2 separate regions of the Homo sapiens genome follow, and region 2 is linked to region 1. The links come from fine-mapping of genetic effects on plasma protein levels. Region 1 holds a variant in brackets. A gene starts in the other region. All regions are shown on their reverse strands.

Region 1 (2,901 bases):
CTAAGCCCTCCCCAGCTGGAGCCTGTCACCTGAGGTTTTCCCACCCTCACTGAGCCTCAGTTTCTTCATCTGCACTATGGGTGTAAGCACCCTGGCCTCACTAGATGGTTGGAAGCTGGGCTTTGGGATCCAGGAACAATACCTGGGTATAGCCCCTTCCTGATGGAGAGATTCCTGTCTCATGAGGCACACATGATGCCTGCTGTGTCCCCCCAGGTGGCCAGGGATGGAGGTGGCCACAGACATACACCCTGGGCCACTCTCTGCCACTCTAGGGACCATAGTTCTTTCAAATCCAGAGCATCAGCCCTGCCCTGTGTGGCTCTCAAGGCCTGTTCCCGCTGCGTCTCCCCCAGTTATCAGACCAGGAGGGTTGCTGCAAGGCCAGGCCCATGCTTGGAGTCCTAGGAAGCGGGGAGCCCTGGGGCTCTGTCCCCTGAGTATGCCGAGAGCCTTTCTAAGAACCAGGACTTGGCAGGGGAGCACCCCAGGTGGCACTCCCTTTCCCAGAAGCCTTGGGAACTCCCAGGGTGGTAGCTTCAGAGCCCCAGCCCTTCCTTCACCCAGCCCTGGCAGAGGCCCATGGCCCCCTGCCAGCCTGATGGAGGTGGATGTGGCAGCCACCGCTGTGGTAAGGGTGAGAAGGGTGGGTTCTAAGGGACTCCTCCAAGCTCCTGAACCCTTTTCCTTCCCTTCAAGGAGATGTGAAAGCCCCAGCCTGGTCCCCATCCCACAGCTTAGGGCTTTGGCTCCCATAGTCCCAATCTAGGCAGGGCTGGCAGCAGGTGACTGGATGGTGCTGAGAAGGCAGGCAGAATGGGGGCGTGGGCCCTGGCAAGTGCACTCCTCAGCCAATCAGCGTCCTGCCCGGCTGGTGGATTCGGTTACAAGCCCAAGATCACCCCATACTCCAGCCTCTTTCCTCCTCCTCCCGCAGCTCCATTCATTGGTCCCGCCGCACCGGGCCTGCTGGGCTCCGCTTCCGTTCCACTGCTCAGCTGCCGCCTGGTGGGGCCACCAAGGGCAGGCATCCCAGGGGCTTTGTCTGACTGGACTGGGCCAGTGCAGAATGGGGGTTCAGGCAGGGCTGTTTGGGATGCTGGGCTTCCTGGGGGTGGCCCTGGGGGGCTCCCCTGCCCTCCGCTGGTACAGGACCTCCTGCCACTTGACCAAGGCCGTCCCTGGCAACCCACTGGGGTACCTGAGCTTCCTGGCCAAGGATGCTCAGGGACTGGCCCTGATCCATGCCCGCTGGGATGCGCATAGGAGGCTGCAGTCATGTAGCTGGGAGGATGAGCCGGAGCTCACCGCAGCCTACGGTGCTCTCTGTGCTCATGAGACTGCCTGGGGCTCCTTCATCCACACCCCCGGACCCGAGCTGCAGAGAGCACTGGCCACTCTTCAGAGTCAGTGGGAGGCATGCCGAGCGCTTGAGGAGAGTCCAGCAGGGGCCAGGAAGAAGCGAGCAGCAGGGCAGAGTGGAGTCCCTGGTGGAGGGCACCAGCGAGAGAAGAGAGGATGGACCATGCCTGGCACA[C/G]TGTGGTGTGGAGTTGGAGATTCTGCTGGGAACTCCTCGGAGCTGGGTGAGCCATGAGGGGTGTGTGGGCTGGGGGGTCCGATCGGGGAAGCAAGGTTTCTTCAGCCCCAGCCCTTACTCTCCTAGGCTGTGTGTCCCTGGGGGAGTGACTTGACCATGGTGAACCTCAATTTCCTTATCTGTAAAGTGGGGGCAATCACGAATCTCATCATGGGGTGCTTAAATGAGGTCACGGTTGGGGAAAGTCTTATTCAAACCTGGGAGTCCTCATTAAATGCCATCCGAGGGACTGGGCAGGCTGGGGGAGGATCCAGGGTCAACTGAGCCAAAAAGCCATTACCCAGGAGGAGGCTTTGTGGGCACGGGGTGCCCAGTGGAATGGATGCTGAGACGAAAGGCCTGGGTTCAAATCCCAACTCAGCACATACAAGCTGAGCAAGTCACTTCCCCTCTCTGGACTTATTTCCTCACCTGTAAAATGAAGGTGATACCTCCCTTTCAGGGCTGGCTGTGAACCTGGATGTGGGAAGTGCCAGGCATGTGGGAAATGCTTAGTAAAGAGTGCTATTTTTTAGATGGTAATAAACATAGATGAATTTCTTGCACTATCAGTACAGATGTCTGTGCGTTTGTGTGCAGGGTTGGGGGAGGGCTTGGCACCTGAGTCAGAGTAGGTTGGCATCCTGGCGACACCTCCTTGTGCCAGTGAGAAAGGTTGCACCCTGCCTGTTTGCCATTCCATCATACACACATTCATAATTTTGGAGTTTTATTTGGGGCGTGGGCTTGGGAACTCTGGAGGCAGACTCCAATTCCCCTGAGGAAGACCTTTCCATGTATTTATGGGTGGGCTACCTGGCATTTAGAGTTGCCCAACAGAGGCTGCAGCTTGGCTTCTCTTTTCCAGCTTTGAAACTCTGAGAGTCCCACAGAAGGGAGAGTGACTGGTCTGAGGACCCTCATGGCGTTTGTGTCAGGGCTGGGGTGAGAACCAGGTCTCTGCCCTCTTCCTACCAGGGGGGCATAGCTGGTGCATGATGCCTAGGACCCTGCTGAGTTGGTGCCCTCTCCCCTCCCCTCCCTGCAGGGGTCTTCCAGGGACCTGATCTCTGTTGCCGGGAACATGACCGCTGCCCACAGAACATCTCACCCTTGCAGTACAACTATGGCATCCGAAACTACCGATTCCACACCATCTCCCACTGTGACTGTGACACCAGGTTGGTGGCAGGCAGCGAGGGCCCAGAGCTCAGGGACAGGGCAGAGTTACCCAGTTCCTGGGTAACTAGACATTGGGATTGCAGAGGATCTTAAAGCTCAGCCAGCTTGGACCCCACAGTGCAGGTAGGAAAGCTGAGGCCAGA
Region 2 (2,874 bases), not on the chromosome of region 1:
TGCTCTGATGCTGTGCTGCTGAGTCTAGAAGGGAAAGAGCAAAGCAGACGCTGGGATGGGAGTCACAGGAAGGGGAAGGGCCACAAGGAGCCAGTGGGGAATGTGCAGTGTTACCTGGCAAAGCTCAGAGAAGCACTTCCCAGAAAGACCCCGGAGTCCACATGTTTCCTTGTAAATATGTTTTGTGTTCCAACTGCAATCTGCCTCCAGAAAGAATCTGCCTGCCTCCCAAGGATCAAGTAGAATTTTCCATTTTGTAGGAGACTCCCCTTGTTGAGCAAAGCAGCTTTGCCTTGCCTATGTCCAAATAATCCTCCAAAATACCGCATGAGAGAGCCTGTTCGTGGAGGTCAGGGCCTCAGCGGGGTGTTTGTGAGGATAGTGAGGACGGACCCCTGGGTGAGGCAATTTTAGGAGAGAGGCACACAGCTTCAGAAATGGCTTCTTCCAACAGATTCATGCAGAGACTGAGCCTCTGAGTAAATTGGTCAACATCTATAGCTATGACCACGGAATTCTCAAACAGGTGGATCGTTCATAAAATCCAAACACAGTTACAAGTTTTGGCCTGCATAGTGTTGAGCTACAGCTTTATTTTTAGAAAATTTTAATTAGCTGCCAACCAATTTCATATAAACACATCTGGATTTGGGGATGTCATTTTAAAAATCAGACAGTGTGACAATACTGAGCCTAATCCCTGCATTTTCTCAGTCAATTGGAGATGAGTGTTGACCTCTATGGAGGCAGAGACTCTCTAGTTTGCCACAGTCCCCATCACTCCCTATTGCCTTATCTCAAACCCAAAAGTCAGTTGCCATTTAATATCACACTAAACAATAGTTTTCTTATGGCTGAATTAAGGAAAAGTGAACAATTTCTTCTTCTGAAAATCTATGAAAGGTGAGGTGATAATATATAATGAGGGCCACATCTTCCCTGTAGAAGTGAGTTTCTTTTTAAATGCTGCATATGTAAATAACAAATGTCTGTTTTCAAAGTATACAACTTAAGACCCTGTCATGAGGCAAAACGATTCTGCTCCACTTTATGTTAACAGCTTAGCCCAGTAAAAATTTAGTATGCAGCTATAAAGGAGACGTTGTTATTGTCAGCACACTGCAAATGGATGATGGGAGAGGCTAAGTGGTTTGGGCATAGCACTCAGCTAAACACATGCTGTGGCCAGGATTCCACCTGGGTCATTCTGGTGTGGGACTGTGCCTGTAGCAGGCAGGGCAGCCTGAGCTCTCTGAATGAGACCTGAAGGTAAGTATTTACAACAGTAATCTTATATTAAAAATTCCCTCTTTACCAGCCTCTCAGAGCCTGGTAGAATTCCCTGATAAAAAAGAGGGAATTTTTAATGTAAATTTCCCTGCCTCTAGAATTAGGGTATCCTCTGCTTATGTAGTAACTTCAGATGGAAAAAGGAACTCAGACACTACGAAAACTTCGGCAACTTCAGTCACCCATTCAACAAAGATTTATTGAGAGTGGCAGGCAGGAAGAGATCAGACCATGGATGTAGAGAATCTCACTTTTAATTTTGAGATGTTCCTTTTCCTGCCTCTGTGAACTTGGACAAGCTCTTACATATCTCCAGAACCAATTCCTGCTTTTGTAAAAGGGGAGGAATCATTGCACTCCCTACTAGAGCGGATGTGATGAGGGAAAAGGAGAACTCAGGTAAAATGGGCTCAGTAGTTTGGCAGCTCGGATCATGTCATTATAGTTATTTTACTCCTCCATAGACATCACTGCTGGGGTCCTCTCCCCATCAAGGAGGGTCACTGTGAGGCTGAGTTGTCCTCCTATCCTGGCCACAGGGTGGACAGGGAAGGGCCTAGAGGAAGCGTTTGATGGCATGCAGGTAACCCCCCTTTTCACTGGATTACATCCAGCACTTTCCCTGCAGGAACCGGCTCCCTCGGAGGGGCGTGGCTGGGAGGAGCTGTGAGTAACGTGCCACAGTGTTGTAAAAACCCAGTGAGTGTTATAAAAACCCAGTCAGCCTGGCTCCTGTTGAATAGTCTACCCCCCTTGCACTCTACCTGACACAGCTGCAGCCTGCAATTCACTCGCACTGCCTGGGATTGCACTGGATCCGTGTGCTCAGAACAAGGTAAGAGCCTCGCTCCTTTAACAGCTTTATTACCTGCTGCCACTTCTCACTCCACCAAGGGCCTGGAGTTCCTTGGGCCTGCATTCCATCATGGGCAGGTGGGGGCTGAGCCCCAGGGCCGTGAGAAATGACTGGGTGTTTTTCTGGCATATCCAGTCTCCTCTTCACCATTTATTGCTGTTCTCTGCCCTTTTGTGATTGTCTTTCTCCTTCTTAACCCTAGAAGATGGCCAACTTCTAGGGTAGAAATCAGATCAGGACCATTTCCTGGGTCTGCCTCTTTTTATAAAAAATTCTGTGTTTTGTTTTAAATGGAGCACAAATAATACAAATCATCTTATCATTATGTGTTATATGAAACTAAATTGTCATTGTTCATAGTTGTTTTTCTTATTCTTTGGCAATGTTTTTAAAGGGCAGAGTAAATGTGAAAAGCAAAAAGTGATCAACCAGGGGTGACAGAAAGGAATAAGGAGATTGATCTGGCTACCCATACCAGCTTTGAACTTGCCCACTATGAGATCCTGAGCAATTTACTTACCTGTCTGAGCCTTAAGAGTCAGAGCTGTCACCTGGGATGACATATTAATAGCTACCTGGAAGAGCTCTTGTGTGGATTTCACAAGGTGGGAATCAAACCCTAGACCAGTACTTAGCACACAGGAGGTGTCATATAGAAACTGACTTCTCTTCTTCTGTTAAGCATGGGTTTTTATTGTACACATGATCAGATTCATGCAGTTCAGTGT

Alleles and levels. Positions count from the first base shown, and alleles are read on the strand shown. Strength reflects both the effect of a copy and how common the allele is.
For the plasma level of the protein whose gene starts at base 1,636 in region 2, allele G in region 1 goes with a higher level than allele C (weak association).

The links. A credible set is the group of variants that fine-mapping cannot tell apart. PIP is the posterior inclusion probability: the model's chance that the variant is causal. Protein levels are from antibody-based Olink assays in UK Biobank. Linkage for the fine-mapping came from a reference panel and not from the study's own genotypes, which makes the PIPs less certain.
Region 2: it holds the start of FGFBP1, and the variant in region 1 is the best candidate, but not a certain one, in a credible set for the plasma level of the FGFBP1 protein (UK Biobank, PIP 0.75).

The regions. Positions count from the first base shown.
Region 1 is chr22:31,138,523-31,141,423 of GRCh38, reverse strand. It overlaps PLA2G3 (phospholipase A2 group III), which reads left to right and starts at 916. Exons shown (of 7, transcript NM_015715.5): 1 at 916-1,583; 2 at 2,625-2,757. The coding sequence starts at 1,070. RefSeq lists enhancers at 294-853, 854-1,412. The variant C/G (reference allele first, on the strand shown) is at 1,538.
Region 2 is chr4:15,937,502-15,940,375 of GRCh38, reverse strand. It overlaps FGFBP1 (fibroblast growth factor binding protein 1), which reads left to right and starts at 1,636. Exons shown (of 3, transcript NM_005130.5): 1 at 1,636-1,689; 2 at 1,905-2,125.